Linked DNA regions of Homo sapiens. The protein of the gene in region 2 purifies or fractionates together with the protein of the main gene of each other region. This does not show direct contact. Each region holds a gene or a part of one and is shown on either strand. Other genes may lie near its edges.

What was found.
Region 1: the proteins of SLC51B (region 2) and TMEM38B purify together in Homo sapiens (affinity purification with mass spectrometry; 2 studies listed by BioGRID and IntAct, with this or other methods). This does not show direct contact.

Annotation. Positions count from the first base shown.
Region 1 is NC_000009.12:105,774,478-105,777,375, reverse strand, and holds the end of TMEM38B (trimeric intracellular cation channel type B), read right to left. Parts: 3' UTR 747-2,898; downstream 1-746. UniProt on the Homo sapiens protein: Intracellular monovalent cation channel required for maintenance of rapid intracellular calcium release. Acts as a potassium counter-ion channel that functions in synchronization with calcium release from intracellular stores.
Region 2 is NC_000015.10:65,041,202-65,048,386, reverse strand, and holds the start of SLC51B (organic solute transporter subunit beta), read right to left. Parts: upstream 3,001-7,185; 5' UTR 2,805-3,000; exon of another isoform or gene 2,674-2,804; coding exon of another isoform or gene 2,643-2,673; intron 1-2,642.

The DNA.
Region 1 (2,898 bases), on a different chromosome or scaffold from region 2:
GTCCTTTGTAGGGACATGGATGAAATTGGAAATCATCATTCTCAGTAAACTACTGCAAGAACAAAAATCCAAACACCGCATATTCTCACTCATAGGTGGGAATTGAACAATGAGATCACATGGACACAGGAAGGGGAATATCACACTCTGGGGACTGTGGTGGGGTGGGGGTAGGGGGGAGGGATAGCATTGGGAGATACACCTAATGCTAGATGACGAGTTGGTGCAGCGCACCAGCATGGCACATGTATACATATGTAACTAACCTGCGCAATGTGCACATGTACCCTAAAACTTAAAGTATAATAAAAAAAATAACAAAAAAAAATAAAAATAAAAATAAATTCAATTATTTGGGGGGAATATATGCTTTAAATCAAGTATATGAAGGATCAGTATGAACCTTACATTTACCCACAAGTCTACATGGTGTGCTCCCTCATGTCCTTCAGGTCTCTGCTAAAATGCAATCTTAACAGAAAGGCCTGGCAGTCCTATTGTAACAAACAATCCCACTCCCCTCACTTTCTATCCTTATGTCCTACTTAATATTTACTCGTAACTTTTATTGCCACCACAAGAGTATATTTGTTTATTATCTGTCTCTCCGCCACTGGAATATAAACTCCAAGGGAGAAAGCATTTTTCTTGTTTTCTGTTATCTTCAGAGCCTAGGACAATGATTGACCCATAACTGGTACTCAATATTTGTTGAATAAACAACTGAATGAATATTACCAAGGATGTGAATTACACCTGGGGCAAACACTATAAAGGGCTTTATTGGGGGAAAGAAAGAGCATTCTGAACACATTATTCCATTTACAACATGGGATGTTCCACTCAATTGTAATCAACTTGTGATTTGAAGTAGATTTTAATGGAAAGGTGTCTGGGCTTTAAGGAATAGACAAAAAAAAAATACACTAATCAGAGTCTCCCTTCTGTCATCTCTCTACCTTTTGGTCTCTACCCACAGGGAGGCTACCATTTCCACTGAAAGCCAACAACTCCACATATCTGGTCTCTCTCCAGCCCTTACTTGATACTCCCTCAGTAAGGAAGAGTGACTAATCTGATAAACCAGTTTGATATTCATTTGGCCATGTTTTACTTGAGAGTGACAGCACTGAGGGAAGCTGGCTCATGTTCTTGCCAGCTTTTTGTCTCCTTTTTTTTTTTAAGGAGACCTATTAGGACTTGACTTTCTCAGTGCCACCTCTGATTAGCTGTGTGAGGCAGGCCTATAGGCCTTATTCACACTTCACATTGGGTAAGGAGTCTAACAATCTGCTTTGCAAATCCAAGTCAAGACTCTACAGGTGACCTGAATAGATTCAGGATGGGTTTCAGGCCTAAGCCATGTTCTCCAGTACATTTTTTACAAAAGAGCCTTGAATTGAGGGTTATAGGATACTTGCATAGATTAATAAAGTTTCTACCAATGTCCCATTTGAACAGTAATCACTGAATATATACTATATTAGTCAAAATACTAGATGAGTTCTGAAACTCTACCTCAAGAAAAATATAAAACATAAAAATAATGTAATACTCCATTGGTGCTAAATAACTTATTTTAATAAATTTATCTTTAATACAAGTGTAAAACAAGAGTCCTTCCATTTCAACTACAGTTAAACCCAAACTTCAAAACTGGTCAATAATTAACAATGTATTAATTTTGAAAAGTTTTTAACTGTAAGAGTATCAAATATAATACAGAGCTCTTAAATACTTAAAGCTTTCTGTCACAATATTAAAAATAAAACTTCTTAGCATTCCAAGACTATGAAAAGTGCCCCCTCCCAATTTTTTAAGCAAGTAATAGTATCTGCTGGTGTTTATATTTGTTAAAAATTTAAAATAACAACAACAAAAAAAAAACTTCTAACTTGAATGTGATGTGACTTGAGTACTTCTAAACCATCGAAAATACCTGATACGGGGAGTAGGTTCATGGTTTTGGTAAAAGAAACTATGTCACAGAGTTTTAATATTATAACTGGACTTCTAAATCATAAAGTAAGAAAATTAACATCATTTAGTATCTTTTCTTGTTTGTTTTTTATTTTGCTAAGAAGGAACCAGATTTTATATCATCATTCTTCATCTAAATGGACTGCCATATGAAGTTCTGGTTTCTCTGTTTCTTCTTGGTTAGCTGGTTACTACCAAATGCCTAAGGACAATTCTCAGAGCATTTCCACATGAAGGTGATTAGTTTTCATTTAATAAAATTAATAACACATTACATGTAGATGAAAATATAACAAAACCATACGAAAGCTTGTCAGAGATATTCAACTAGAAAACTAAAACAGTAGCCACTAGAAAAAAGACATAGTGGAAAAATTTTTGAACGGATATGCTTTTTGTTGAATAATTACAGTAATTACTACCAATATATTCAGACCAACAAAGATTAGAAAGAACATGCAAAATGCTGAGAAAATTTCTCCTACAATTAAAACAAATGTGTTTTTATGAGAGAGAAAAAAATAAGTCAAGCTCCTAAAATGAAAATTACAAAACATAGGATTAACAATTTATTAAAAATTACACCCTTGATTTTTTTGAGGCCAAAAAAAGTAGTTTTTTTAAAACAAGGGCATGAAAAAGACTTCAGATTAAGACTCATACTCTGTTCTAAATGAAAAGTAGTAAAACTACTTCTAGTAGAAAATACCTGCTATGGAAAAAAAATTTCAGATATTTTCCATTTGATGTAGGTATTAATAAAAAATATGATGTTTATATCTAAAATATAAACTAGCAATTTATTTTCATTTATAATATAAAGTGTTTTAGGAAAAGTTTACTCTTCTCAGTGTTCAAAATAAAATAGGAATTGTTCTCCATACCTAGCAATTTTAATGATAATGTCAAGTAAAAATT
Region 2 (7,185 bases):
CATCAGAGTTTCCTCTAGCACTAAATGCTCTGAGAAAACTAAAAAGGCATATCTACAAATTGCAAGGGAAAATATTTTGACACAAATACAATACTGACTTAAGCTTTTCATATGTGAATGATCATTCATATGCCAAGGTGGAGATGGAAGTCAGGGAGAAAAAAAGACCTTTCTTAGACTTTTTTTTTTTTCTTTTTTTTTCTTTTGAGACGGAGTCTTGCTCTGTCGCCCAGGCTGGAGTGCAGTGACGTGATCTCAGCTCACTGCAACCTATGCCTCCTGGGTCCAAGCGGTTCTCGTTTGTGCCTCTGCCTCCCAAGTAGTGGGACTACAGGGCATGCCACCACGCCAGGCTAATTTTTGTATTTTTAGTAATGATGGGGTTTCCTCATGTTTCCCAGGCTGGTCTTGAACTCGTGACATCAGGTAATCCACTCGCCTCGGCCTCCCAAAATGCTAGGAATACAGGCCTGAGCCACCGTGCCTGGCCCTTTCTTAGACTTTCAAGGACTCACATGCACACTGCCTACTTACTCATTTGAGGGAGATTCTATCTATCTATCTATCTATCTATCTATCTATCTATCTATCATCTATCGATCTATCTGTCTATCTATCTATCTGCCTACCTACCCATCTAAAATCATGGAAAGACAAAGTTACAAGAATGGCCAACAGATGTGATCTTGTGTTCTAGCTCCAACTGACTGTCCAGAGCACTGTCCAAGAAGGATTGTGACATTCCATCCAGTCTCAGATGTAAGAGTGCCTGGATTGATTAGTAACATCAGCCACAGGCCCCTGTGCCATATGCAAACCCCTGAACTCACAAAGAAAAGTATTGAAGTTGAGAAACCAAACACAGTCTTCTTCTAGGGTGTGGGATGAGATTTAGACACATGGGATATTCATGTTGACCACTCCTGTATTGTGTGGTTTCTTATGCGTATACACTGCTTTCATGAGAACAATACATGTAATTCCATTTTTAATGTGTGTATATATTTCTATGTATATTTTGTCTATTTGTATGTATGTTTTTTTTTTTTTGAGATGGAGTTTTGTTTTTGCTGCCCAGGCTGGAGTGCAATGGTGTGATCTCGGCTCACTGCAACCACCGCCTCCCAGGTTCAAGAAATTCTCTTGCCTCAGCCTCCTGAGTAGCTGGGACTACAGGCATGTGCCACCACACCTGGCTAATTTTTGTATTTTTAGTAGAGATGGGATTTCACCATGTTTGCCAGGTTGGTGATCCGCCTACCTCAGCCTCCCAAAGTGCTGGGATTACAGGTGTGAGCCACTGCACCCAGCCTTTGTATGCATTTTTAAATGTAGGTATTATTGTACTTATACCTTTTGAGACAACAATTCCAATTTTTGATATTTAATTAATGGAACTAATCAGATCAGTGTACAAAGACGCAGGTAAGCTATTGTCCACAGTGGAGTGGTGTTTTTTTGTTTTTTGTTTTTTGAGACAGAGTCTGGCTCTGTCACCCAGGCTGGAGTGCAATGGCACCATCTTGGCTCACTGCAACCTCCATCTCCCGGGCACAGGCGATCCTCTCACCTCAGCCTCCTGAGCAGCTGGTACAACAGGCATGTGCCACCACGCCCGGCTAATTTTTGTATTTTTTGTAGCGATGGGGTTTCATCATCTTGCCCAGGCCAGCCTTGAACTTCTGAGTTCAAGCGACCTGCCCACCTTGTCCTCCCAAAATGCTGGGATTACAGGCATGAGCCACCGCGCCTGGCCAAAATATGTTTAAAATATGTTTAATATTGTTACAGTAAACACATACCAACCAACAAAAAACCAAAATGACAAATTGGATACAAATCCAGAACCGAGAGTCAGCCCTCCTCAGCTATGTTAGATGCCACAGAAACAAGCGACATATTTCTTTCTTTTTTTTGAGACAGAGTTTCACTCTTTTTGCCCAGGCTGGAGTGCAATGGCATGATCTCAGCTCACTGCAACCTCCACCTCCCAGGTTCAAGTGATTCTCCTGCCTCAGCCTCCCAAGTAGCTGTGATTATAGGCATCCACCACCATGCCCAGCTAATTTTGTATTTATTTATTTAGAGACAGAGTTTCACTCTTGTTGCCCAGGCTGGAGTGTAGTGGCACCATCTCAGCTCACTGCAACCTCCGCCTCCCGAGTTCAAGTGATCCTCCTGCCTCAGCTTCCTGAGTAGCTGGGATTATAGGTGCCCGCCACCACATCCAGCTAATTTTTGTATTATTAGTAGAGACAGCATTTCACCACATTGGCCAGGCTGGTCTCGGAACTCCTGACCTGAGGTGATCCATCTGCCTCGGCCTCCCAAAGTGCTGGGATTACAGGCATGAGCCACCGCACCCGGCCAATTTTGTATTTTTAGTAGAGATGGGGTTTCACCACGTTAGCCGGGGTGGTCTCGAACTCCTGACCTCAGGTGATCGGCCTGCCTCGGCCTCCAAAAGTGCTGGAATTACAGGCGTGAGCCACTGCGCCCGGCCAAAGACATATTTCTATCAAAGCACGTATCCAGTTTGCTTCTAAAGTGAGCATCATATTGTCATTTGCATGATTAAATTAAACTTTATGCCTTATTTGCATTTTGTTAGTTTTGCCTTTAATGTTCTTTTCTTGTTCCAGGATCCCATTTAGGATGTCATACTGCATTTAGTTGTCTTGTCTCCTTAAGCCCCTCTGGGAGATCTCTGCATTTTAAACAGGGCTTAACCATCGTGCCATTGGACTGTGACTTCTGCCAAAGACCTGGGCCACCCATCCCCAAGGCAAGATGAGGACACTCACCCCGGATCCTGAGTTCCTGACGACTGCCTTGATCTGCTGTTGGGAGCAGCACCGATTTCTGTATCTTCCTTTTCCTCCTCTTTATGGGAGAACAGGATAGTCTTTGCACTTGAGCTCTCCCAGGCAGTAACAGCTGTCACTTAGGGGACAGTGCCTGGAGAGCCTGCGGCAGCTGGACCCATCTGGTAGCTCTGGCCTTAGCACACGCCCAGGCCTGGAGCCTTCTGTATCACTCCAGGGTGACTGACCTCTTGAATGAGTGCACTCAGAGTGCAAACAGGCTCCACCTGACTTTCACAATCCGAAAGCACCAGTAGCCCAGTGCTTTCATTGTTATGTGTTGGCCTCAAGTAAAGAGAAAACATCCGGATCCTCTGGACAGGCAGGAGAATGGACTGCAGAGGACCTGCGGTCTGTGGGTTCCATCACTGCAGGGGGATATGTAGTGTGCCCACTCCAGGTCTCTATTGCCCAATATCATCAATATTTAACCACGGAGCAGGGAGCCAGGCTGGCCTTTTACAGCCTGTGCTTTCTCATAGTGAAGGTCATGGCATGATGTGAATTCCTCACAAGGAGCTGTAAAATATGACCTTTGGAGGTGGGGGTTGGGAAAGGCTGTGTGAGCACCAGTGACCCAGAGAGTAGGAAGCAGGCCAAGGCAAGTAACTTGATGGGGAAGCAGGAATGAGGTGCTCCTCCCACCTGACCAGCACCATTCAACTCTGATAGTCTATGGACTTTTCCACCAACTGGCTCCGTGCATCTTAGGCAATCATTGTTGGTTTAGCAAGGAGTGGGCTTATGTGAAATAAGCCCACTCCTTTTTTTTTTTTTTTTTTTTTTTTGAGATGGAGTCTCGCTGTGTCACCCAGGCTGGAGAGCAGTGGCACAATCTTGGCTCACTGCAACCTCCACCTCCCCGGTTCAAGCAATTCTCCTGCCTCAGCCTCCTGAGTAGCTGGGACTACAAGTATGTGCCATCATGCCCGGCTAATTTTTTCTATTTTTAGTAGAGATGGTGTTTCACCGTGTTAGCCAGGATAGTCTTGATCTCCTGACCTCGTGATCTGCCCACCTCAGACTCCCAAAGTGCTGGGATTACAGGCATGAGCCACCACGCCCAGCCGCCCACTCTTATTTCTTACTTCACAAATGAAACAGAGGCTGAGTGAGGTCACATGTCAAGCCCAAACTCCTCTATGAGTTAAACATTAGTCAACAGTGTGTACTGTGTGTGCATGGGGCAGAGGAAAGAAGACCCAACAGGGAATCTAGGGGCTGCCTGGAACTCCAGCTCCTCCTCATTTTGTAATGCATTCATTTATTCATTGAATAAATGTTACTTGAGCATCTACTGTGTAGATACATGGTAAATAAGACAGGTGAGGGCCCTGCTCCATTGGAGCTCAAACTCCAGGGGAGATAGCCAACAAAAAAGTAAGCAAAAGCATAATTAAAAGATAATTATAGCAGTGATCATTTCTGTGAATATCTTAAACAACATAATAAGATAGAAAGGGATGAGGTGGGGGAGACATGATTACTATATTACTACACTAAAAACTGAATGATGAGGGGTTAACCATGCAAAGACCTGAAAAAGCAGGTACAAAGGCCAGGCGTGGTGGCTCATGCCTGTAATCCCAGCACTTTGGGAGGCCAAGGCAGGTGTATCACCTGAGGTCAGGAGTTCGAGACCAGCCTGACCAACAAGGTGAAACTCCGTCTCTACTAAAAATAAAAAAATTAGCCAGGTGTGGTGGCAGGCGCCTGTAGTCCCAGCTACTCAGGAGGCTGAGACAGGAGAACTGCTTGAACCCGGGAGGCGGAGGTTGCAGTGAGCTGAGATCGCACCACTGCACTCCAGCCTGGGCAACAGAGCAAGACTTCATCTCAGAAAAAAAAAGAAAAGAAAAGAAAGCAAGCAGGTACAAAGACACTGAAGAAATAATGAGCTTAATGTGTCTGGAACAAAAAGGTGGCCAATATAGCTGAATCATAGTGATGAGGGGGAAGTGGCATGGAATAAAGTCAGAGGACAGACAGGAGTATCCACTCCTCATGGTGGGCCTTGTAAAACAGGGTAAGGAGTTTGTATTTTACCCTAAAAGTGATGAGAAGCCACTGGAGGGTTTAGGCAGGAAAGTGACATAATCTAATTGACATTTGTCTAAGATCACTTGGCCTGCTGGGTGGAAAATGGATTGTAGGAGAGCAAGAGAGGAACAGGGAGACCATTGGGAGGCTGTTATATTCATCCAGGCAAAACATATTAGTAGTTTGGACCAGGCTGGTGGCAGTGGAGATGATGAGAAGTGGTCAGATTCAGGGTGCATTTTGGAGAGAAAGGTAGTTGATAGATTTCAAGAGAGAAGCTCAACACTAACTCTCTTAAACACAAAAGGAATTTATTGGCTCATAAACTAGGAAGGGCAGGGTGGAGCTGACCTGAGGCATACGGGAACCAGGGATTTGACGACCCGTAGTGCTTTGTTTCTGTGGCTCTTTCCCTGCTTTTCTCTGGGTGCCAGGCTCATTACCCCAGGCTGGCCACCTCCGGGAAGCTTGACCAGATGATAGGAAACCCAGGCTCATGCTCTCATAGCTGCAGAGGAAGTAGCTACTTTTCTTAGCTCTTGTTTAAAAATTCTTGGAAAGGACTCTAATTGTCCAGCCTGAGTCATGTACCTATGTCTTGGATCAATTGTTATGGCTAGGGAGGGGGGTACCACTGATAGCCAACTCAGAGCTCATCATGCCTGTTGGGTAGCCAGGAGAGACAGGCTGTGAGCTGGACAGCCCATGCCATGTGGGTGCCTGAAGGAACCATTTGACCTCAATCCCCCTTGTCTGCCTCTGAGGAGTGTTGTGGTGCTCTAATGGGATGGTGTCCCCTTAACAAGGAGCCTGCACAATCCCAGGTTTTCCACTCTTCTGCTTCTGTGTCTTTTCTCTCCCTCCTCTTACCCTAGCTCTTTCTACTACGGCCTATCCAATAACTTGTTCCATGGTTGCCATGTGCCAGGCATTATGCCAGTGATAAACAGTCGAAAGGATTGTCCCTGCCCTCATGGAGACTCCAGTCTAGCAGAACAGACAGACGGGTGTTCATCATGTCATCACAACTTCTGTGTGACAAGTGCCATGAAGGAAACGTACACATGGAGATGAGAGCACATCACCAAGCCCTCCTTTCCTCACAGCATCACTATCATTCCTGGCCAATCAATCCCACCTTGAAATCTCCTCTCCTGACTTCTCCAGTCTCTTATCTCCCTACCTAGAGGATGATAGACAGTCAGCAGTGTAGTGGAGTGGAAAGGGCTTTTGGTTTTCCTCTGCTATTCTGGTATCTGCCACCTGCTAACCCTTCAAGCCTCAGCTTAAATGTCATCTTCTTAGGGAGGCCTTCCATATCAGTTGAGAATTGTGTTTGGCTCTGGGTAACAAAGACCCAATGTCAGTGGTTTAAACCATAAGAGTTTATTTTCTCATAGAAGAATGTCAGAAGTAGCCAGTTATTAATGTCGTAAGACCAAGGAAATCAGGGCTGAGGTTTCTAAGACTCCCTCATGGCCCCTAGATGGCTGATGCAGCTCCTGCCATTATATCCAAGTTCCAAGCAGAAAAAAAAGCAAAAGGGAAGAAGGACAAAAAGGTGTGACCATGCTCTATAGTAAACGAATAACCTATCTGAGAGTAAACTCAGATAATACAGAGAACTAAGGTCAAGGGAGTTATTCCCAGAAAACAGTAGCAAGGGCAGCCAGGTGGGCTAACCAAAGAACTTACTCTACTGCCAGGGTGGAGGTCTTCACAGCTCATGCCCAGCAGGATTTGATAACTGTCATGGGCCTGTGCTGCTGTGTGGACTGTAGCACAGCCTGCTAATTTCCCCCTAGATTACATTCTTCCCTTCTTCCTTTTAATAAGAGAATCCTCTAAATTTTAGAGGCATATGGCCACCCAACTGGAAACTGCAGTTCCCAGGCCAGGCGTGGTGGTTCATGCCTATAATCCCAGCACTTTGGGAGGCCGAGGTGGTCGGATCACGAGGTCAGGAGTTCAAGACCAGCCTGGCCAACATGGTGATACCCCATCTCTCCTAAAAATACAAATTAGCCAGGCATGGTGGCGTGCACCTGTAATCCCAGCTACTCAGGAGGCTGAGGCAGGAGAATCGCTTGAACCTGGGAGGTGGCGTGAGCTGAGATCACGCCATTGTACTCCAGCCTGGGTGACAGAGCAAGACTCCATCTTAAAATAAATAAATAAATTAATTAATTAAAAAAATTAATGAACCTGCATTTCCCAGATTCCCTGCAGTCATAAGTGGTCCTCTAAGTTTTGGCCGAAAGAGACCTGAGAAGTGATTGCA